7 linked regions of the Homo sapiens genome follow. The protein of the gene in region 4 interacts with the protein of the main gene of each other region in a pairwise test. Each region holds a gene or a part of one and is shown on either strand. Other genes may lie near its edges.

Region 1 (3,500 bases), on a different chromosome or scaffold from region 4:
GGAAAGCCCAAGCCATTAGAGATCAACAAACTTAAATAATATCAGTGGCTAGGTTTGTAGGTAATCATACCTTTGGAGAATTTCACTTCCTTGCCCAAGTTGAGTGTTCATCACAGTAGAGGTCAGGGTACAAAGTACCAGTGCATTGAAGGTTGTCCACTAGGTCAGTTCAGGAAAAATGTAAAAACAGATTTTAAATACATGGTACAAAAATAAAAAGGTATAAAAGCATATATGGTGAAAACCAAGTCTGTCTTCTACCAGCCCTTCAGATTCAGTTTCCCTCCTAAGAGGTACTCATTTTTCCAATTTTTAAAAATCAGCCGAGGCCAGGCGTGGTGGCTCATGCCTGTAATCCCAGCACTTTGGGAGGCCAAGGATGGTGGATCACCTGAGGTCAGGAGTTCGAGACCAGCCTGGCCAACATGGCAAAAATATAAAAATTAGCCAGGCATGGTGGGGGGTGCTTGTAGTCCTAGCTACTCGGGAGGCTGAGGCAGGAGAATCGCTTGAATCCGGGTGGCAGAGGTTGCAGTGAGCTGAGATTGAGCCACTGCACTCCAGCCTGGGTAACAGAGCAAGACTCTGTCTCAAAAACAAAACAAAACAAACAAAAAAACCCAGCCGAATTTATAGTAAGTTTCATTCAATTTATCGTTCATAAATTCCTAAGCAATTCTGATCAGGCTGCCATTCTTTTTTGGAAAAGGTGGACTCTCCTGCCTAGCATTTGTTCTCATGTACTTTCAATTCATTTAATGGCAAATTGTTCTTTTCCTAGGAGAGTTGGCTTCCTTTCTTCTGACTTCTGTATCATTCATTGATTCATTCTTTTAAATAAATGCTTATTGATTCTGTACAAGATTCCTAGCACAAAAATAAACAAATAAATAAGTGCTTATTGAGTGTGTTCTAGGTATTGTGCTAGGTGCTGGAGCTACAATGGTGAGTTAGATATAGTCCCTGCTTTTATGGAGCTTACAGTCTACAGTGAGGGACGGATAAATAAACAAACAGTTATAATGTGTTAAGGATTTGATCCTATGGGAACATAATAGAAGGGATATTTAAATCAGGCTTGAGGTATCATGGAAGGCTTCCTGGAGGAAGCAAAAAGAATATAGCAAGTAAAAGGGACCTGAGCAAATATTAACTGAATTAAAAGAAGCTTATTTAGTATGGCAGGATTAGAAAGTCTGGCAAGGGGAGATGATGGAGAGTGTTGACAAGAGAGGATACAAAGAATATTATGGACCACAGACAGCCCTGTATGTCACAGTAAGTAGTTTGGAAGGATAGAGATAAGTCGATGTATTTGAGACCCAGTTAGGAAGTAAACATCAGTGGGAGTTGGTGCCTGCCTGGATGTTGGGAGTGGGGATAAAGGATGATACTCAAGTTTTATGGGTAGATAATGATATATTTGAGGGAAGATATGCATTCAGTTTTACATATATTAAGCTTGAGTGGAGGTATCTGGCAGGCTTTTGGAATGAGATATATAAGCTGCAAATTGAAATCTGGGAATCATAGCCATTGAAAAAGAGGAAAAGACTTGCAGAAAGAGAAGAGGAGCCAGGACATATCCCTAAAGAGCATCAGATTTAAGGTGGTTCTTCTGAAGAACCCTAAAAGGAGACTGAGAAAAAAAGATTAGAGAGACTGAAGGGAAACCAAGGATGTGTGGTACCATAGTCACCAAGGGGAGAGTGTTTCAAGAAGAAAGGAATAGCCGGGCGCGGTGGCTCACGCCTGTAATCCCAGCACTTTGGGAGGCTGAGGCGGGCAGATCATAAGGTCAGGAGATTGAGACCATCCTGGCTAACACAGTGAAATGCCGTCTCTACTAAAAATACAAAAAAATTAGCTGGGCGCGGTGGCGGGTGCCTGTAGTCCCAGCTACTTGGGAAGCTGAGGCAGGAGAATGGTGTGAACCCAGGAGGCAGAGCTTGCAGTGAGTGAGCCGAGATTGCGCCACTGCACTCCAGCCTGGGTGACAGAGCGAGACTCCGTCTCAAAAAAAAAAAGAAGAAAGGAATAATTAGCTGTGTCACATGCTGAGAGGACTGGCACCTGGTCCTTAGGCAGTATGATAAATGCTTACTTTGTGCCATTTTGTAGTAGGTGCTGTGAGCATACACTGATGAAACAACACAAATTCTGCCCTTGAGTAGCTTGCAGTCTCGTAAAGGAAATTAGACATACTGGCATATAGATTATTTTATTTAATGTATTATTACTAAGTGCCCACATTGTTCTAGGCACTGTTCAAGGTGCTGCGGATACAGAAGTAAAAAGAAATAGGGGAGAAGACAATAAACAAATAAATGACATAATGCCAGACAATGATAAGTATGATAAAGAATAATAAGGCAAGAGAATAAAGAGTAAAGAGGTAATAGTGGTTTTTTTGAGGGCTATTCCTGATAGTAGGGTAGTGAGGGAAATCAGCTCTAAGGAAGTAACTTTTGATTAGAGATCTCAGTGATATGAAAGTATGAGCCATCAGAAGAATATTCTTGGTAACAGAAACAGGAAGTATAAAGACTCTGAGGTAGCAATGAGCTTGGTGTGTTTGAGGAATATTAAAGTTAGAGTGTAAAAGCTCCAGGAATGATAGGAAATAAAGTGAGGAGCAGCAGGGCCATATCACACAGGACCTTGTAGGCCACAGTAAGGAGGAGTGGATGGGAGATAGGAAAAGCAGATTGAAGGCTGTTGCAGTAGTCCAGGTGAATTTAAATATAAAACCCATAGGTAGAAATGATAGTCCTTGGCAAGTAATGGAATTGTGGATGGGAAGTGGGAAATCAAGGTCATTGCCAATGTTTGAATATGGGTGATTTAGGAAAATGAGGTGCCAGGAGGAGGAGTTTGGAAGGATTTTGGTTCAATTTTGGATATGTTAGTGTTTCAGATGTTAAAGGGGAATATTTCTGGGTATTTATCATAAAAGTAGATAACTAATAGGGAGTAGAGCAGGACATTAGCATCAGTAAATACAAACTTGACAGGCAAAAGAGGAAGCTGTGGAATGTGTAGCAGTGACAGGAGAGAAGATGGGGTAGAGTTCTTGATTCTACATTTAAACATATATAGTTTCATTCCCAGTACTTAGAATAAGTGAAGGATTTTTTTTTCTCATTCTCTCAGGCTTTCTGAATTTCTCATATTTCGTTTTTATTTTTAAATTTCTATCTCAATCTCTCTAATTCTACTGTTAGCATTAAGGAGTTTGCTAAAGACCTGAATGATAGGGTTGGGAAGGTGAGGGATATGAGGAAGACTGGTTAAGGGATAAGGATCTGAAGTTTGCAGTTTCTTAGAGGGCTAGCAGGGAGAGCAACTGAGTAAATTGGGTCCTGTTCCAGAACAAGGCATGTAGGCATGTTTGTGCTCTGGTTCCCTCCATTTCCCTTTGCTTGCCTCACTGTGTTTACCCAACTACATCCTGCTTTGTGTTAATCCTCATCTCTATGTTTTTTTGTCTTGTCTCATTA
Region 2 (3,500 bases), on a different chromosome or scaffold from region 4:
TGGAAGTTATGAGTTTTAAGAAAAATGAAGCAACAGGCTTCTCTGAGATGTGCTGGAGCCTAAGCAGTTCTCTTTAGCGTACCTGTGAGCGGCATGTTGTCTGTGTTCCCAGCAGGGAACTGGTGCAGAGCAGGGCCTAGGCCTCCAGGTTGACTGGATGGCAGAGGGAGATAGGTTGTCTCCACGTGGCTTTCATTCTTCACAGCGTCGCTGGAAACCATGCTCCCTTTATTACGGTTGGCCAGAAAGCATGAACTCGGAGAAGCAGTGAAAGCAGCTTTACTCGCATCTGGAAAGAGTTTTTAAAATGGGAAATTTGAGATTTTTTCTCACATTCCTCGTAGATAAACCCAAGTAAAAAGAAAATGAAAATGTTTCATTGTTGAGTATTTAATCTGGAAACTACTAAGCAATGTTTCCCATGGGAAGTGAGGTTGGCAGACCTTTGCTCTTGACAGTGATGCTAGGTTTTTTTTAGCTGCATATTTGCGGATGTGGATGTAGATAAGGAGCACTAAATAATCCAGTTTGGAGTGAAGTCTTCAAAATGCAAGTTGCCCTATCCTGAATAGATGTGTTTCCTTCCTTCTCTAAACTCCTATAGAACTTATTTTTACACCACTTACATATGTAGTATACCACATGTGTCTTGAATTACAGTTATTTTTTGTATTATAGTCACTTCTCCAACTTCACCTTAATTCCCAGAAATTAAGATCACCAATTTTGTATACTTCAGAGTTTCCAGTAAAGTACTTTTGACTACATAGCAATGAATGAAAGAAAAGTAGTGCTCCAATAGTGTGACTGTATGGTGAGAATTAGTAATGACATGTTTGGAGAAAAACTCTGAGATTATGATAAACCCACTTAATATCTGAACTTATAAATTCTTGAACTTAAGATTAAAACAAAGAAATATGCAAAACAAAACAGTTATTTTAAGTTACCTGAATTCTTCATATACTTGTCCAATAAATTCTGTAACTCCTGCTCTTTGTCATTATTAAACTGGGTCTCCATGGCCAGGAGAATGTATTCATCGAGAAGCATTCGAATCAAATGAAAAGAACCTTGTTTATGGATGGAGAATGAGGAGAGGACAGTGTGAAATGTAAAAAGGGGAGAGAAAGAGAAGGAAAGGGAAAGAGAAGTCAGTTATCTTTGTGACCATCTCGCAACACTTTACAAGGAGCAACTGAAATAAACAAATACTTGTTGGACTTTAAATGACCTGCTAAGACCAACATGCTTAACTTGGATCTCTAATCTTTCTGTGTATTGCCTGCCCTGCTCACTGTGTGTACTGTCCTGCCAGCTCTTTGGCCACTAATTACATCAAAGGAAAATACGGATGAAAGTGAGACATGCTTTATGCTTTAAGAGGGCACACATTGGAGTGTGATAAGCTTCAACTTGGGGAGAATGAGCTCTACTCTGCTCTATTTCTGTTTACTTTGTACTAAATAATTAGACAATGGCCAACATGGTCTGAAAAAAGTCAAGTAAAGAGATATCTTTCTAGCCTGAAACAAAATATTCTTAGATTTGGCAAAAACTAAAAGAGTAATTTTCAAGTGAAATATGTTCTGGAAAACTAAAACTTCTTTTAACTATTCAATAGATTTTCCAACAAAAGTATTTTTCGTAGTAAGGCCAGGCTTCAATGCTGTATATTTTATAAAACTTTAAATATGGGAAGTCTATTTCAAATAATAGACAATGTGTTTTGTTTATTCTTCAATACAAATTCACTGATTTTATTTAATTCTATAGAACATTAAATAAAAACAATTTAGTTAATTGTAATCTCTTTCATAATGTGAAGATTTCCTGAAATGCAGCTACCAAATGCAGAGTTACTACTCATGAGTTAACATTATAACTATAAAATAGGAGTCTCAGGAATTCTAAGGAAAAAGAAGGCATTCAATTTTATAAAAAGCTAACTTAACCCTATTTGTCTCCCAAGTCATATAGAACAGGAAAGATGGGTCAGAAACATGACAGTGTGTCTTCTAAGCTGTTTTTTGATTCCTGGAGTGCAGTTATATGGGTGCTCAGAAAAGCTGCAGAAATTTGCCGTATTGCAATGAATAATAACTTTGGAAAATAATGTCTTAATTATCATTTGTTTAACAAAGAAAATTTATCCAAGCACTGATGGAATGTAATGATAATAGCTGCTATGCATTAAGCATTTCCTGAGTGCTAGGCAATTTGTTTTTATATACATCATCTCACCAAAGTACCTATACAACCCTTCGAAGAGAATATTCTTCCCCTTCTTCAATGAGCAGATTGGCCCATAGCCAGAGACAATCATTGTTAGGATTTAATCCTGCTTATGGTCTGACTCCAAAACCCAGGCTCATAAATACCATTTTCTCATAGCTCCATATTCAGATACAGTTTAAGAAGTGATGATGTAACATGTTTAAAAATTGACAGGAACTGTGACTGAGGAACAAATTATATAATTCATGTAAGAACAGTTTTATAATGCACGTATGTTACCAAAACTGGATGCATTGTTCAAGGTGAGATTATGCATTACTCGAGCACCAAAAAAACTCCACTTTAACAGAAAGTCTTGAGCTCTCTTCTTTAATGACCTTCCATTTTGTTTGCTGGTCTAAAAGTAAAGGAACAAAATGAAACTATAAAATCCGTCCTCTCAGTACTACATGCATCCTGTGTTAGATCAAGAAGTAAATAGACTGTCTAACAAATGGACAGATGGCATGGCATTTATTTCATCAAATAAAACTATCTGTCCAGGGAATTTAATGTTAGCCTGTCTTTGCTGATGTTTTAAGGGTAATAAGTCTTTATTCAATATGGCTTTGTTTCCTAATAGAATTAGACAACAAAATGAAATAATTTTCAAAATATTTTTATTTTTTAATTTTTCTTTGACAGAGCTTTAAAAAGAACAGAAGGTGAGGTGTGAAGGAAGGGCTATATATTTTTGTGAATGATTAACTCTGACTTCTTTGGTACTGAATGATAATCTATTTTCCTTACAGAAGGAAAAAAGTCTCCAAACTATAACTAGTCTCCTTGATATGGAATGGCCAACACCAACTAGTGATGGATATATTTGTTCTTATTGCTTGTTTCACAATGGGTGACTAGGTTAACCAAAGAAGGTGAAGAAACCACAGAGAAAACACAAAATATTGAGCTTTTGGAATTCAGAAATGCAAATGCTTAGAACCATGTTTTCCATCAGCATTTATGAAATCTTGCTTTTTAGAAACGGGCCAGATCATTCCAGTTTCTAAGTTTATCTTTCTCTACTGATGTTACTCAGCTGTAATGTTATTGACTGATAGGGAAGGCAGAGCATCTTGTAGTCTTTCGGCAAGAAAGGAGAAATATAATGGAATCCATGCCCAATGCTCTCAAATCTTGACATATTCCTAATTTCAGTATTTGGCCTGCCTTATTCGTAGAGCATCAAAAGCTTTTCAAAGCCTTTACACACACAGCCTTCC
Region 3 (3,500 bases), on a different chromosome or scaffold from region 4:
TAATTGAGAAGTAGAGATAATAAAGACATAAACCAATAAATCTTTGCTTGAAAATCACAGGTATGGGAACAGATTGTGAGGACAGAAAAATAAAAAGTAAAAAGAAAAATCATAGGTAATAAGTGTCTAAAGGGTTTCTTCATAGGAACAGTGGTTGTTGACCCCAAATAGGACAAATAGGACTCCCATGTTCAAGAACACATCACCGTTGTTAAAAAGGTCTGCCATTATTAAATAGTGCAATGAAGAACCATTTAGACTTTATTAGAGTCCACGTTATTGGCAAAAGATGTTGGATATTCATAGAAAATCAAACTTGACAAATTCCAAAAGTGTCTTTCAGCTCTGGAACAAAAGATGTCATATAGTTCCTTGCTACCAAAGAGTTTGTTCATATGGTAATAGAGGCCCATACCTTTAGAGGGCAAATACAGTGCTTTAGGAAGGACTTAGATGATATAAATGGTATTTGTCCCTTTTCTCATTTTTATTTACTGATTTTCAACTCACTTGGCTTTTAATGAACATTAGCGTTACTTATCTGTTGGCAGCTGGGTTGGAAAACATTTGTTTTTCTAGACTTTATGAAATGGTAGCCACTGGTGTTGCACTTAATGTTTATTGCCAGTTAGTTCTCTGCAGTTAATCCACAGCAGAGGAATCACACTTCTAAAATGGTTCATTCTCTTCTTCATAGACATTTAAAGTTGAACAAATACTTTCTTGTATATTGTTACTCTGTTTGGATGGAGAGGGAATGTATATGTATCTTAAAAATATTTCTCTTTGCCACATTAAACATGCCTTTTTTCCTTGTGTGTGTGTGTGTGTGTTTTCAGGTCAGATGTACCAACAGTACCAGCAACAGGCCGGCTATGGTGCACAGCAGCCGCAGGCTCCACCTCAGCAGCCTCAACAGTATGGTATTCAGTATTCAGGTGAGCAGGTGTTGAAAGGGAGTTGGCTCATGGTTTTTTGTTTCTATACTCATTAAACTTTAAGTTCTTAATTCCTTGATTTGTAGTACATTGATATAATAGGTATTAAGTTTTTATTAGGGGAAACAACATTTGTTTTATTTATTTTTAAATATTTTACATTAATATTGTAAATCAACATTTCAGTTTTCTGGTGGGGAGATAAAACTTACAGTAGATGATTCTGCAGTAACTTGTAGTATAAAAAGTTTTTAATACAAAGCTGTCTTACTAACATTATCAGTTTATCTCTTAGGCGACTTAGTGCAAGTTTTCCCCCTTCCCTCCACCTCTCCATTTATATGTAACACGTAATTCCAGTGTACTCTTAGTACCTGTAGAAATATGAACAGTTTACTATACATGGAAAGGTGATGTTATTTAAATAAGAGCTCAATTAAGCTACTTAGATTTTAAAATCTCTTGCAAGTATGTAGGAATACCAGAAATAGGCCATAAAAATAAAATCGTATAAAATGTAATTCAGGCAACTAAGAACATTGTTTAGTTGTTTTAAATAAGCATCCTGAGTATTTTGTTTCTATTTTACCATCTGTCCACTGAAGATTATATGTATTTAAGTATGATAAATATTATTAATGTAACTTTGGCTATAATTCCAGTATTTTTTACAGTTATGTCAGAGAGTTTGTGTCCAACTCTTGTTTTACAGCCAAAGATTGAAGTATCAGAATTTCAACTGTAATTAGAAATAATTTATGCAGGTTGAATCTAGTCTAAATTCTATTTTATAGAGTTTTGTGGTATCAGCTAGAGCAGGAGTCAGTAAAGTATAGCCCACAGGCCAAATCTGGACTATTGCCTGTTTTTTTGAATAAAGTTTTATTGGAACACACTTCTACTTTTATATTCTCTACTGCTACTTGGGCACTAGAATGGCAGAGTTGAGTAGTTGCAACAGAAGACCATGTGGCCCACAAAGCCTAAACTATTTACTATCTGGCTCTTTACAGAAAAGTTTGCTGACTCCTGACCTAGACCATAACATTCTGTCATTAATTAAAATTTGAAATATTTTGACACAATTTTATTTAGATTGTATTTGCTGTAGAGTGACTTAACTTGTAGCTACTTGTTTTTAATTGTATAAAATACATAGAACTTAAGTTTGGATTATATCAGGAGGAAGGTTATTTTTAGGATGCAGTTCTTTTAAAAAAATCAGTGTTACAAACTATGTTATTTATAGAAAGAATAGCAGAGCTGAAGAGATTTAGTCATCATTTAATCTCGGGATTTCGGTCCTCACTATGCTTTAGAATCACCTGGGGGAGGCTATGTGTGGGGCCCCATTCCCAGAGATTTTGAATTTCATTTGATTGGGTGTGGGACTCAGGCGTTTGCATTTTATAAATGAGGCAACTAGTTTTGAAAGAGATTGTGACTTGTCAAAGCACATACAGCCATTCAGTGGAGGGAGCTGGATCAGTTCAGTATTTCCCTGTATCATTCTGCATTCTACAACCTAGACTGGAGTTGGCAGACTTACTCCATAAAAGGCTAGATGTCCTATGTATTAAAAAAAAAACTCACATAATTTCCATATTTCCATTTTTTTGCTATTTCTGATGTCCTTCACCTAAAGTTATTTATTATTTTGGAGGGACGGAAGGGAGACTATATATATACACACACACACATGATAGAAGCATTGCCACATTATGTTCAAGAGACTGGTGGGCTGCTAATGAAATCTTCAGCCTGTAGGGTTATTCCCTCCCCTAAGCAATAATTAAGGATCAGATTACTTCCAGGCCCAGTTAAAAAAAAACAATTCAGATTTCAGGTGCCAGGATGAAAAGGCACTTTTCTTTTTTCTCGCAGTGTTAAAATGAATAGGCATTTTCAGTATAAAGCTGAATCCATCTATTTCTTCAAAACCTTATAGTGAAAATTTAAGTTTTATGTAGAGGATAGGAGAACTTGTATGACATTCAGAATTTTTTATGAGTTGGTTTCAGGTCAGTATTTAGATGCTACCATGAGTTAATGCGTTAAAGATACTTGATTTACTTATTAAGAACTAAGCTTGCTCTTAATAAATTTAGTCAGGGTCTTCACTCTGAGTAAAATTTAGTCTTTTCAAATTATTATCTTTGTATTTCTGATCCTACTAGTCTATTAACTTGAATTTGATTGAGAGATATGGAAATAGTCAACTAAATACTCTGCTTGGAGACTAAGAGGTGGTGGTGGTAACATTGGACCATCTTTGACACTGTTGGTTTGCCAGTTTCCCTCTGACCTTTTCCAGTTTTGTTCATGGACTATGTCATAAAGGTTTCTTTCATGAGTAAATTTTGAACCCAGGTTCAAGGTGAGTTCAGAATATACTCAAATTCATTCAATCCTTTTTTTTTTTAATGCAGGGTTGTACATATTTTAATAATTTTCTTATGTATCTGGTATTTAATGCTGACAGGATTCCAGTCAATGGAGAGGTTTCATTGCAAGTAGCTGCAGGTGTGTTTCATGGTAGAGATAAAAGTTTTCAGTGAAGCA
Region 4 (3,500 bases):
GAATCTGGAAGGCAAGATTCATTCTGAAACGGCCATAACTGAAGTACGGCAATTCTATTTTTGTCACATTTTAAAGCACAAAAATTTCTGCTGTCAAAAATGTATCAGATGGGGAAATGCAGTGAATGAACTTTACATGATGAAAGAGAATATCACTCCACAAGAAATACTCTGCCACAGCAAGTCTTTGATAATAAACATCATGACAACAGCAAACAAAGACTAATGAGATGACATGGGAACCGACACTAAACAAACATGGCAGGGAAGCAAGAAGTATCTTCTCAAACATCTCCATCTCCTTTCAGCATTAAAAGCAGCATGGATTTCAGGAAAAGTAAGACAAACTAGGCACACACGAAAAGACTCTTGCTTCCTCTGCTGGGTACTGAAGGAAACTATAAAAGAAAGCTCATCTCACTTAGTCTCTGCATGAAGACATCCTGGAAATACCCTCAAAACATGAGTCACTTCCCTTTGCCAATTTCTGACAAAAAGGTGAAGATAACTATAATAGGAAGATGTCTTGTGCAAGTATGCGTTAAACAGCTAAAACCTGATGGATTGAGGGCTGGCCCCATGACAGGCAGAAGTATGACTGAAACCCTAATACCTTCTCATTACTGCAGAAATACTCTGGGGAACATATATGATCTATTGACAGTGGTGCGGTGGGGATAGAGGGATGTACAATAGCACAAAAGCATTGGATGCTTAGAGAAAATATGAGATATTTGGCCAGGGAGTTTGTCCTGCTGTCAGACTTCTAACAAGAAAAAGTTAATTCTGTCACTTCAGCAACCAACCCCAGTGTAAAAACCACAGGCTTGTATATTAATGTTTATGTATGTATGTGTGTATATATATGTGTGTGTGTGTGTATATATATATATTCTTTGAGACAGGGTCTTGCTCTGTTGCCCAGGCTGGAGTGCAGTGGTGCCCGATTATGGCTCACTGCAGTCTCAACCTGTTGGGCTCAAGTGATCCTTCCACTTCGGCCTCCCAAGTAGCTGGGACCACAAGTGCACACCACCATTGCCCAACTAGTTTTTGTATTTTTTATAGAGACGGGGTTTTGCCATGTTGTCTAGGCTAGTTTCAAACCTCTGAGCTCAAGCAATCCACCCACCTCAGCCTCCCAAAGTGCTGGGATTACAGGCATGAGCCACTGCGCCTGGCCAATATTTTGCTTTTTAAATGGGTTCCACTTATAAACCATATGCTACAAAAGAAAAAACCTTAAGCTTCTCTATGCTTGTCCAAAGCAGTCTTTCCCATCATTTTATTCCCAAGGAATAAGAGTAGAAGACACTGAAGAATATGCTTGGAAGTTAACAGAGGCAGTGTGGAGTGACAGAAAGAGGACAGATTCTGGAGTCAAAGACTTCTGAATCTTAGCTCTGCCACTTACTAGTTGGAAGAGAAAATAAGAGCACCAAATCCAGTCCACATTACTCATACATTAATATTTACTTACCTTGTCCCCTTGAGAAAGTAACTTATTCTGAGCTTCCAACTCTTTGCCTGTAAAACTGAGGTGCTGCCACCTAACTCACAAGATTATTTATGAAAATTAAAGTGCCTGGCATATAGTATGCACTCAGTTCCTTCTCTTTTCTTACGATCTCTCCTCCTAACATTGTTTCCAACTGAACCACTGCACTTTCTTGTCCTTCAAACTCCAGTAACATGAAGAAACAACATGGAGATTTTGGAGCAGCAGCTACTGTTGTATATAGCAGTACAGCCACGGTACAACATATGTTCATTAAGTAGGCGTTACAGACCTATGATTCCCTCCCAGTTTTCTCTGGGGTTTAAATCTAGTCTTCTACATACCCAGCCACATATTTACATGCTCATTATTAAAATTCCTTACTCAGTCAACAGATATCCATACAGGGAGAGAGAACATGTCAGTGGAATTATTAGACTAGGAATCAGGAAACAAACGATCCACTTGCTTCATTATCAATTCTTGTAGAGCTGGACTCTGAATCACCAGGTGGAAAGTCTAGACCAGCACTGTCCAATAGATCTTTTTACGATGATAGAAATGTTCTATATCTGTAATGTCCTGTATGGTATCCACTAGTCACCTGTGGCCACTGAGCACTTGGAATGTGGCTATTGTGACTGAGGAACTGAGTTTTAAATTTTACTTAATTTTAATTAACTTAATATTGAAATAGCCATGGGTGGTTAGTGGCTGCCATATTAGATACTGTGGATGTGGAACACTTCCATGACCAATTAACATTAGTCAGACATTAATATTTATTTACCTTGCCCCCGTTCCATGGACACTGGTCCACTTCCTGGCATTCCAACCTGAGCCTGCATTCCTCCTAGAAGATAAAGGGCAGACAAGAAAAAACACCAATTAGAACAGCGGAAAAGAAAAATTAGAACAGTGGCTGAGTTTACAAATTTCCTCATTCTGCTCCACAAGCAGAAACCTACAAAGGAAGATATTCAACAATGCAATGAGAGAGAAGATGGGGTTTGTTAGTATATTTACAATTTGTACTTTATGTTTCAGTGACAGAATAGTGAGTTCAATAAGAATAATTCATTTCATTGGTTACCAAACTCTTGGCAGGAAGCTCTTCTATAATACAGGAAAACAATGTCACTTACCCATGGACCTCCTGTCATGAAAGATAATTTAAATACAAGTATAACTCTATTAGGATAAAGTAGATACATAACAATCCTAAAGTAGATACAAAAAATTCCTGAGTTTGCAGAAATTTCTTCAAAAAATCTCTTCTTCCATTCCTCATCAACTTAGCTCTGCAGACTGGATTCTCTACAGAACAGAACAATTTAGAATTAAATCATTCTCCATGAGTAGTGTTGTACTCAACCTACCCTAGATTAGATAAATTAACAAAAACCAAGTTTGTTACATAAAAAAACTTTAAATATTGGTAATACATCATGTGTTCATACAGATGTTTCATATGGGGAATCATTATTTCACTCAATCTTCTTAGTTACAATTGTTGAACAAGGAACAGTTACAAGTATATGAGCAATACTCTTATTAATTGCCGATCTATACATTTTCAATAAATGTACATAGCTTTTAAATTTCTCTTTTTCCCTTTTGTTGTTTGTTCTGATTATGTTTGTTAAAATACAATTTTATGTCAGTTTAATATGCTATAACAAATGTGACCTTGTATTTTTTTGTCTGTTTTCTTCATGAGCTTTTGAACCTAATCTGACAGTTCATTCATATTTAGCAGAGTAACAACTACATTAGTTTTTATTCCTTCCATCTTACTCTACATTTATTATTACTTATTTTACACTGTCTCTTACTTTTTTCCTCTTCTCTATTTTTGCTGGCTTGATTTTGTTTCCACTCATTCCATTTTCCCCCTTGTTAACTTGGAAGTTTTACTATGCTCTTTCACTTTACTGTCCCTTTCCCTGTTCTTATAATTAGACATACAGGATTTAACGTAAGAAATCTACTATTTCCTCCA
Region 5 (2,597 bases), on a different chromosome or scaffold from region 4:
CTAATGTATTATCTAGAAGTAAGTTGTGAAAGAAAAAAGAGAAACCCAATCTCAAGTTGCCCAACTGATTAGAAATGCCATCTCCTTCCCCTAATACACTCCCTCTCCCTGGGGAGTTTGAGTTTCTTCTGTTGGCTCCTTTGCTGTTTGTGTAAATGCTACAGTATAATTGTCCCCTCCAATGATTCATGCAGCAATCAAGAGACTACCAGCAAGGAAACTCTAAAAGGAATCCTGGAAGTGGAACAAGTCACTCGTAAAGGTGTTTCCATTTTACCAGTCAATGCTAACTGGACCACAGCTAACTTGATCTTCAATGCCAACATCACAGAGCCCCTTTCGCCACCTCAAAAACTGCACAAACATGGACAACCCAGAAACCCAAAACTTTATTGATTAAAACAGATTTTGGATTCTCCTAGGACCTGCTCCAAATTCCATCAAGAAAAGCTCCCTGCGAAGAGAAGTTAACAAGATAACATATGATGGATGCTAAATATTTAAATATATGCCGGCAGCGGTTACATAAGGCCTGCTCAGTTCTGAGATCTATAATTGGGAGGGTCTAACTAGGACAGGGAAAATATAAAATAAAAGTAATCTTCCAGAGTGGAACAAAAAAGAAATATATTCATCCGACAGTCGTAACACCATTCATGTGCAGTGATTTTTTTATAGTTTTATAATTTTGTATTGTTTTATAAATTATTTATAAGGTGTTGTAATGCTTCTTATATTAATTTTTTACAGATAAATTTTTTGCTACAAGGCATAAAAAGGTGCCTGAACCGATTCTTAGGAATATAAATTATACTGTGTAACTCATAAGTCTTTGGGACCACACCTAATGCTTAATTTTATGATGACATTTCTCATGTCTACTTGTAAACAACTTCATATGCCAATGGCGTTTAAGTGTCTTTTATGTTTCCATGAACTGAAGGTTAAGGTTGCCACCCACAAAAAATAAAAGCCACTTTGGGCATATGTGATTGTATTTCAAGCTTCAGTATTTTTCTCACATAATTTTTAATTATTGTTATCTGCATTTTCATTACTTCATGAAAAAATGACAGTGGATATTACATTTTACACTTGTTTATAGATTTTCTTTCTTTTTCAACCAAGAAAATATTTTGAACAATTGAAACTTTTAATTGCATTTGCAAGGTTTTGGCTTCTTTATGTTGTCATCACACAGATGCACACACACATACACATACAACACAAAAGAGAGAACAAAAAAGCAAAAGGAGCTAGGAAAAAAACAAAACAAAACAAGTAGAGGTGTATCAAAGAACTCAAGCTATAACCAAAAAGAAATCGTAAAATGCCTTTGCTCGTTTCTCTACGCTGGACCAAAGCTCAATATTTGTAGGTATATGCACATTGTATAGATATGGCTAAATGTTGCTGACAATCTCGCAATACTAAACTGTTCCTATTTTAAGAAAAAAAAAAGAAATACAAACTGTTCATCAATGTTTTACCTCAGCACTCTACTTGTACCCAGTTAATGACCAAGCTTAAAAAAAAATTGAGATAAAGGAAATTGATTTTCATTTCAATGTTTGACTGTAAAATCTGTTTGGATAACATTTTGTAATGAGCTTTTTGTCATGTGATTTGCTTGTCTTCAACTTGAAATTATGTGAGGCACATTTGTTTATTTGTTGTTAAGAAAGTGATTTTTTTTTTTTTTTGTCCTATGTGCTGTGATCTAGACTGGTCACCGGGGTCACTTATGAGGCACCACAAAGAGATCTGCTTCTCCGTGCCCGGAGCAGGCAGCAGGAGGGAGGGCAGGAAACAGGACTGGGTTGCTTTGGAAAAATCATCATGACAAGAAGTTGACATGATAGACTTGTGACCAAGAAGCCAAACTGAATATTTAAAAGCTCCTTACTTGCTCTGACATTGAAACCAAAGCTGATTTTATCTGCACAGGTTGCTTAATATTTAAAAAAAAAAAAAACTGTACTTAATCTAGAGCAATATCTGTATGGTCAGTAAAGCTGCACTTTGTGTATTTCTTAACAGCTTCAGATCTGTCACTTTTAATTTGTACCATAAAAAATAAATAATTGTTTGACATGAGCTTCTAGGCTAAGTGTGTCTCACACTCAGATATGTCATTTAAGTTGTCAGCATTTTAAAAACTGTACATTAAAACCCCAAATGTTAAGGAAAGGAAGGGGTTCAAGACAGATTGGTTAATATCATGATTATTTTAACTTTTCAAATGACATATTGTATTCATTGGGACTCTTTTGGTTGCAAGTTATAGGAATTCAACTGAAACTTGCCTACACATAAAGGTACTGTGTTGTTTGACTTAATGGGAAGTTCCGTTGTGGACCTGAAGCACAGCTGGATTCAGTGGTTTCAAAGATGTCATCAGCCTGTCCTGCTTGGCTTCCTTCTCAGATGGATTCTCTAACCATTGACTCTAAGGCTTTGAATCATTGCGCCCTTCTCTAAACTAAGCACTGGTGCTGCGGGGTGATGCACATAAATTCATGGTCACAGGCTCATTCCTGTCTGTGGGGGGAGGGTGGGGCCTCACTCTGACGACCCTGTGGGACCACAAGGATTGA
Region 6 (3,500 bases), on a different chromosome or scaffold from region 4:
AGGCGTCGGGCAGGTACTGGGGAGTGAAGATGTGATGTAGCTCTCACTCCCCACGCGCCTACACATGACTGTTGGCCTCTCCACACACCAAAAGCCCGGAAGCGTTTTATATTTCACCTTTCCTAGAACGAGAAATGAAATTCCAGAAAAGAAAACCATGGCCTGCTTTGCCGCCTTTACCTTAAAATAGATATATTGTAAAGATCTATTGCACTTTAAAGACATTGAAACAACACAGAAGGATAGGAAATGAAGAGTGAAAGTCTGCTCTTAACTGCACTTGGCCTGGCCTTCTGATGCCAGGAGGCGAACAAGTCTGTAACCTAATGACAGCACCTTCCTTTACTCAGAGACGCTTAGACAGGAGCATTGACAGATTTACTCAAGATAGAAGAGTATTTATGAATAACAATTATGAACTTGTACAAAAACTCTTCCCCTGATTTTAAGAGAAAGTATGAACATTTACTTGCTTCCTTGTTAGGAACCTAAGTAGTTGTATTATGTATTGCTTGGCTTGGAATGCTCTGTGTGTGTATATATAATATAATGACATATATTATATACATTTATACATAGTTTGGTCCTCTCATATAGCCTGCTTCTCTTTCAAACCTTTTCATGTAGGTGTTTATACTCTGCTAGAATGTTTGTCTTCTTAAGCATATTTGTCAATCCCAAGAAATGTTACTTGTTTTTAATATCCTCAAGCTACCCTGAGACTCAGACATAAGTTAGAACCCAAATGTTTCAGCTGGGGGATTTTGTGTATTAAAAAATAACATTGGAATATAACATGTATCTTGATGGCAGTTGGTCAACTTTTCTGGCAGAATATTTTGATATAGCATGAAGTGGTTCACAAATTAAGAAGACCCCTGTTGGGTGGACTAATTAAAGTTGATTGACTTTGTCTAGCCTGCTGTGGACCTAACACACAGATAGTCTTCTAGATATTGGGAGAGCCTCAGTTTTTCACTTTTAATAGTAGCATAATGCTACTATTAAGTTTTTCAACTCTTTATGGAGACAAATGAAACAATAAGTTGAAGACGGCTTTAGAGGACTTCTTGGAGAAAGGCCTTAGCCACAGTTTTATTATCATGCATTACAAATATTAGAAGTGTGCTTTTTGTCTATGGAGGTAGTGGCTGGAGTTGGTACCTATGCTGATGTCGTTGATGGGATGACACGTGTGGAGAAGCATGTTGGAAGTTGACTGTCTCTGGCACAGGCTGCTAGGGAATGAAAACTAAACACTCTTCTGACCATTTGCATCATTGAGTCAAGCAGAAAAAAAAATCAGTTAAGTAACTCCCTGGAGTGACTTATTTCTATTTCCATGGGCATATTGCCTTTGCTTATTGTCATTTGCTTTTAGCTATTTTTGCAAAGGTGCTGAAAGGCTGTCTCTGAAGTCAGACAGTAACATTCAAAATTATAGACATTATCTATGTATTTTCCTATCCAATCTCTTACTTTAATGTCCGAAAACACAAGAGTGTGGGAAAGAGAGAAACCTCTATAACTCAATCATGCTACAGCAATTTTCATGGCCCCCAAAGTTACTTCAGTGAAATATTTCAATTCAATTGAGTCATGAGTTTGAATGTTAAATTTCCCCAGCTTTCATTAGTCTTTTAAAAATCTCTGGGTTTAGAGGCCTTGCAGTCAGGCAGCCTTGACTGTGAATCCTTTCTCTGCCACTTTCTAGCTTCTGGTTCTTGGTGGAGTAGTAGTGCTTGGGAATTGCTTTATCTGCAGAATGGGAATCATGATACTTAGATAATATGCTGGTTTTTGGTTCTAGACAGGTGTCTGACACATGGTATGCACTGTAATTGTGTTTATTGTCTTTCATGTAATTCCCAAAATGTCTTGAAGTTTTTATTTTCACAATCAATAAGCTTGAGAGGGTGTGTGAAGTGTGTGTGTTTCAGAGGAGTTGACATATGGATAAGTGTGAGAATACTCCCATCCAGGCCCTGGGGTCAAAAGCAGAGTCTGGGAGAATTTTAACAATAGTTTGTGTTGCTGGCAGAGGAAGGACAGAAGAGGGCCTTTGTGCAAGGGAGGCCCAGCGGCATGGACACTTCTCTGCTTTCCGAAACAAGTTGTTGCTTTTCACTTCAGAGGTCTGGGGACATTTCTGAGAAGCTTGCAGCCCTCATTCTTCCAGCTCTCTTGGGAGGAGTAGAGGAGTAGCTGCTGACTGAGGCAAAGGTTTGGCTGGCTAGAGCCCCCTCCAGTGAGACAGGAGGCTTACATAGTCAGCCCTCCTTTGCTGTGAAGCAAATGGCAAATCGAGGGCTCCCTTACCATGCTGGGTTGCGATTAGCTGTTCCTGACACAAACGTTTCATACAGACTCACAAGTTTCTTGGGCATTTCGGTCATTTCAGCGCAGATAGGGCACATCCAGGGTGATCCAACAGGCCTGGCTGCGGCCAAGGCTGGCGGCGGCAGGTACCCGGGTGCCCCGAGGGCCACCCGCCGCCCCGCTCTGGCGCATCCATCAGTGGCCAGCTTTCACCGTGTCTGCCAGGCGGGACTCGCCAGGTGTCAGGCTCAGTGCCATAAGCCTGACACTTGCGCGGGGTCGCCGTGGCTCCTCAGGGAAGCTGGGCCAAGGAGGCTGGGTCGCGCCGGCGGGCGCCGAGGCCACCTTCTCGGGGCAGGCCATCCGCGCTGAGGCGCAGACACGGCGGCTCCTCCAGGCCCATTAATAACCCGGAGGGCGCTGCGATCCGACAGCGCAGTCGCCACAGGCTCTATTTCCCGTGGCCGCCTGCCTCCTTCCAGCCCAGTTCGAGTGGAGGGATACTGGGCGCCCACTACCGCCCGGCCCGGAGGGTGGGGGTCCCTCTCGCGCAGGCTGCTTTGGAGAGTGTCGGAGAGAGACAGCTTTATCTACAGCTTCACCCATTGTATAGCACAACAGAATCGCATTTAGCCTGGAGAACAGCCGTCGGGGCAGGAGTTGGTGCCTTCTCTAACAATTAGGCTGATCGTTAAATTTGCTATTCCTTTCTTCCGGCGTCTAGGGAGAGCGTGCACACCAAACCCTCCAGAACAGCACCCCGGTCCCCCACCCCGCCCCACCTGTCCCCGCCCTGCTTCAGTGCCTGGAGGGAGAACTGACTGGTCGCTTGAGGGACCCCATTTCGGGCGCGCCCTTGGAGTCCTGGGGCTGCGGCTCCTGCTCTACCGGGCTGCAGGCTTGCTCTGCCCCGTCCCGTGGCGTTTGGGAGGCAGTCGAGGAAGCCTCCGAGTCTCTGGGTCGAAGGAAGTGCGAATGGCACCCGCGATAGACTGGCCGTCTCCCCCACCCCGCCCCGTCTGGTGATTTTAAATCGTCTCCTGTGTAATTGTAAAAAGAGGAAAGCTGAATACCCAGACGACCAGTATAGAATCTCTTCGAGACAGCAGATTGGGCAAGAGACGGGCTTTTTTTCGCAATACAAGGATAAACACATCCTGAAACTCCAGATAGAAACCTCA
Region 7 (3,500 bases), on a different chromosome or scaffold from region 4:
AGATAATAAGCAAGGAAACTAGGATTTGAACTCAAGTCTGACTCCAAAATCTAGACTTCTCATCCTTGTTCTATATTGCCACTTCACATGATTACTGTAAAAATGCTATAAATAACCTAAATACATACAAAATTATCCAGCAGGAAACAGTTAAGTGTAGTTAAGTATGAATTATACATTCAAGTGGGAAACAGTTACTTATAACACCATCATTTACCCTGATCACATGACATTATCTACCACCTCCAAGACTCTGTCGAAACTCTCTGATGACTTAAAACTAATAATAAAATTTATTGAATGCTTACTATGGGCCAGGCACTAAGATAAGCAACTCTATAAGAGATATCTCATTTAATTCTCATAATCATTCCATAAAATAGATACAATCGTTGCCCAAATTGTACAGATTAGAAAACTCCCCTAATAAAAAATTTTCACAGGCAGTATCAATTCTCACCACGTAAAGGTAAAAACCCTTTAATTTAGCATTCAAAACCTCCCACCATAGGGCTTACATTTCCTTCCAATCCTATTTTCCCTCATTCCCCACATGTTCCTGCCCTCCAGATAAACTAGACAATATGCCATTCCCTACACATGCCATGCAGTTTCGTAGCATGCACTTTTGCTCATGCTGCCCCTGCTCTGTCCCTGCTCTGCCCCTAAGGAGGCTTTATATCCTCTAGTCGAATCTGTTGGCATCTTTCAATCGATCACATCACTGTTCCATTGTGGTAACCAAGCCCACCTAAAATGGTTTAGCTTGCCTCATTTTATAATTATCTGTGTTCATGTCTTATCTTTCCTGTAAGGCTGTAAACTCCTTAAGAGATTTTAAGAGTAAACTCCTTAGAGTAAGGATAACTAATTCACTTTTTTAGTCCTACATAAAGTCTACCAAACAGAATGCCGAGCATGTGGAAGATGCTCAAAAAATATAAAGAGAGAGGATTAAAGGGAAGGAAACAATTTGGCAATAATGCCTACCTGAGATGTTGAAGCATCAAAACCTCCACTGACATTTCCATTACAGTCTTCGCAAGAAAAGTGTCTATCTTTGTTAACAGCACTAAAAGGCAAGAAAAGGAGACAATGTCCAGAAACAGTGTGTATGTGGCAAACAGCCCTGGGCCAGGGCTCAGGAGACCCTCCACCATATAGTAAATCCCCTCTACTACTAACACATAGGAAATCTTGGGAAAGAAACAACATCTTCAGGACTGTTATCTCACCTGTAAAATAAGGAGGTTGTACACAAAATCCATTCTAGTTCAAATTCTATAGATATGATTCCATAAAACATTTGTCCCCCAGGCGCGGTGGCTCACGCCTGTAATCCCAGCACTTTGGGAGGCCGAGGCAGGTGGATCACCTGAGGTCGGGAGTTCAAGACCAGCCTGACCAACATGGAGAACCCCCCATCTCTACTAAAAATACAAAATTAGCCGGGTGGTGGTGGGCGCCTATAATCCCAGCTACTCAGGAGGCTGAGGCAGGAGAATCTCTTGAACCCGGGAGGCGGAGGTTGCGGTGAGCCGAGATCGTGCCACTGCATTCCAGCCTGGGCAAAAAAAAAGAGCAAAACTACGTCTCAAAAAAAAAAAAAAAAAAAAAAAATTTGTTCAACTGATTATGGCCATATTGCAAGTATGCTGGAGTTCCTGCCCTTGGGCCAGAATGTTAAGAAGTGGATGTCAGAAGTCACTTCCTTTAAACCCCTCAAAGTTATACAACATCTGCAAGGTTCCTACATAACAAGCTGAGATTTCTTTTCCATTAAAAACAGTGCTCAGGCTGGTGTAGCAGAAAGGCCAGGCTTGGTAATTACTTACAAGAAAATTTTGAGTACTGTCTTTATTAATCACCCAAGGTGAATGGTAAGAACTAGAAAATGAGCTGGGCTGGCGCAGTGGCTCACACCTGTAATCCCAGCACTTTGGGAGGCCGAGGTGGGTGGATCACTTGAGGACAGGAGTTCGAGACCAGTCTGGTCAACATGCTAAGACCCCATTTCTACTAAAAATACAAAAATTAGCCGGGCATGGTGGCGTGCGCCTGTAAACCCAGCTACTTGGGAGACTGAGGGAGAAGAATTGCTTGAACCTGGGAGACGGAGGTTGCACTGAGCCGAGACAGCACCAACGCACTCCCACCTGGACAACAAGAGCGAGACTCTATCCCCAAAAAAAAAAAAAAACATGAGTTAGGGCAGAAAATGTCCAAAGAGAACAAGGCCAGCCCGGAGACAATGCAGCCAATTACCTCTATTTACCCTATGGAAAAGACTTTGTGACCTCAGAGAAATCTTAAGCAGTTCTCTTAAGAAGAGAACTTGGTTTTTGTTTTCAGCAGCCAGACCTCAGAGCAGCACTTCAAAAAGAGTTACTTACCAACCTGAGTGTTTCATAGCATCAAGCAGAAGTTTGACATATGGATCTAAAAAAGATATTGATTTAATTAAGTAATTGGAAAAGTAGCACCAATTAAACTACCCAAATAGCAGTGTAAGATATTATCAAAAAGTAACTCACAGGCCAGATGCAGTGGCTCATGCCTGTAATCCCAGCACTTTAGGAGGTTGAGGCGGGTGGATCATTTGAGGCCAGGAGTTCAAGCCCAGCCTGACCAACATGGCAAACCCCGTCTCTACTAAAAATACAAAAATTAGCTGGGCATGGTGGCACACGCCTGTAGTCCCAGCTACTTGGGAAGCTGAGGCATGAGAATCACTTGAACCCAGGAGACAGACATTACAGTGAGCTGAGATCACACCACTGCACTCCAGCCTGGACGATAGAGTGACTCTGTCTCAAAAAAAAAGTAATGTTATCTTAAAATTGGTAAAAATTGACATGAGAGGCCAAGCTTAAATCAACATCAAAGCAAGTTTGTACTGAAATAAAACACTAATACAAATACCAAGATGGTACTACTAAGCATCTTAGACAATATCAACTATGCTTTTAAAGTTCATTTTTAGTTAAATGATCAAACACGTTGTATTACGGTATATACCAAAAGACTGAGGGAATCTAGGGCCACATTCTTAGAAGTGAACAACAGCACAGTACCTAGATTTGAGGAAGCCAGTAGCCACACTGTTCTGTCCTGATCAGATCATACCGGCAATACCATGTCCCATGCTGAGTACTACCACCTTCTAAATTGGACCTGCCACTGAAGCTCTTCCACAGGGGATGGTGACTAGGGTACTACAGACTATTTCCAGTAAGAAGCAAGAAAGGATTTGGGGGGTTGGAAAGGAGACAGAAGACTTAACTAGGACCACACTACTTTCAAGTATTGAAGGGGTGCCATGTGGGACTAGATTCAGTTAATATTTCTTCAAAGGGCAGAACAAGGACCAAAGTATGGAAGTTACATGTGGCAGATTTCAGCTCAGTATGAGAAAGGATTTTTCTCCAACAATTAAAGCTGGTGAAACAATAGACAGTAGATTGAAAGAGCCTCAAGGAACAGGTAACTGTATTCCAGGA

What was found.
Region 1: the proteins of CSTF2 (region 4) and USP54 interact in binary tests that used the Homo sapiens proteins (3 or more experiments, as listed by UniProt).
Region 2: the proteins of CSTF2 (region 4) and RFX6 interact in binary tests that used the Homo sapiens proteins (3 or more experiments, as listed by UniProt).
Region 3: the proteins of CSTF2 (region 4) and TFG interact in binary tests that used the Homo sapiens proteins (3 or more experiments, as listed by UniProt).
Region 5: the proteins of CSTF2 (region 4) and POU6F2 interact in binary tests that used the Homo sapiens proteins (3 or more experiments, as listed by UniProt).
Region 6: the proteins of CSTF2 (region 4) and PRDM6 interact in binary tests that used the Homo sapiens proteins (3 or more experiments, as listed by UniProt).
Region 7: the proteins of CSTF2 (region 4) and ATP23 interact in binary tests that used the Homo sapiens proteins (3 or more experiments, as listed by UniProt).

The regions. Positions count from the first base shown.
Region 1 is NC_000010.11:73,500,843-73,504,342, reverse strand, and holds part of USP54 (ubiquitin carboxyl-terminal hydrolase 54), read left to right. Parts: intron 1-70; exon of another isoform or gene 71-159; intron 160-3,500.
Region 2 is NC_000006.12:116,922,242-116,925,741, reverse strand, and holds part of RFX6 (DNA-binding protein RFX6), read right to left. Parts: intron 2,636-3,500; coding exon 2,518-2,635; intron 1,074-2,517; coding exon 951-1,073; intron 290-950; coding exon 83-289; intron 1-82. UniProt on the Homo sapiens protein: Transcription factor required to direct islet cell differentiation during endocrine pancreas development. Specifically required for the differentiation of 4 of the 5 islet cell types and for the production of insulin.
Region 3 is NC_000003.12:100,743,994-100,747,493, forward strand, and holds part of TFG (protein TFG), read left to right. Parts: intron 1-839; coding exon 840-938; intron 939-3,500. UniProt on the Homo sapiens protein: Plays a role in the normal dynamic function of the endoplasmic reticulum (ER) and its associated microtubules. Required for secretory cargo traffic from the endoplasmic reticulum to the Golgi apparatus.
Region 4 is NC_000023.11:100,826,891-100,830,390, reverse strand, and holds part of CSTF2 (cleavage stimulation factor subunit 2), read right to left. Parts: intron 2,352-3,500; coding exon 2,289-2,351; intron 1-2,288. UniProt on the Homo sapiens protein: One of the multiple factors required for polyadenylation and 3'-end cleavage of mammalian pre-mRNAs. This subunit is directly involved in the binding to pre-mRNAs.
Region 5 is NC_000007.14:39,466,505-39,469,101, forward strand, and holds the end of POU6F2 (POU domain, class 6, transcription factor 2), read left to right. Parts: 3' UTR 1-2,097; downstream 2,098-2,597. UniProt on the Homo sapiens protein: Probable transcription factor likely to be involved in early steps in the differentiation of amacrine and ganglion cells. Recognizes and binds to the DNA sequence 5'-ATGCAAAT-3'. Isoform 1 does not bind DNA.
Region 6 is NC_000005.10:123,095,741-123,099,240, forward strand, and holds part of PRDM6 (putative histone-lysine N-methyltransferase PRDM6), read left to right. Parts: intron 1-3,486; exon of another isoform or gene 3,487-3,500. UniProt on the Homo sapiens protein: Putative histone methyltransferase that acts as a transcriptional repressor of smooth muscle gene expression.
Region 7 is NC_000012.12:57,944,567-57,948,066, reverse strand, and holds part of ATP23 (mitochondrial inner membrane protease ATP23 homolog), read right to left. Parts: intron 2,440-3,500; coding exon 2,394-2,439; intron 1,342-2,393; exon of another isoform or gene 1,307-1,341; coding exon of another isoform or gene 1,236-1,306; intron 1,073-1,235; coding exon 991-1,072; intron 1-990.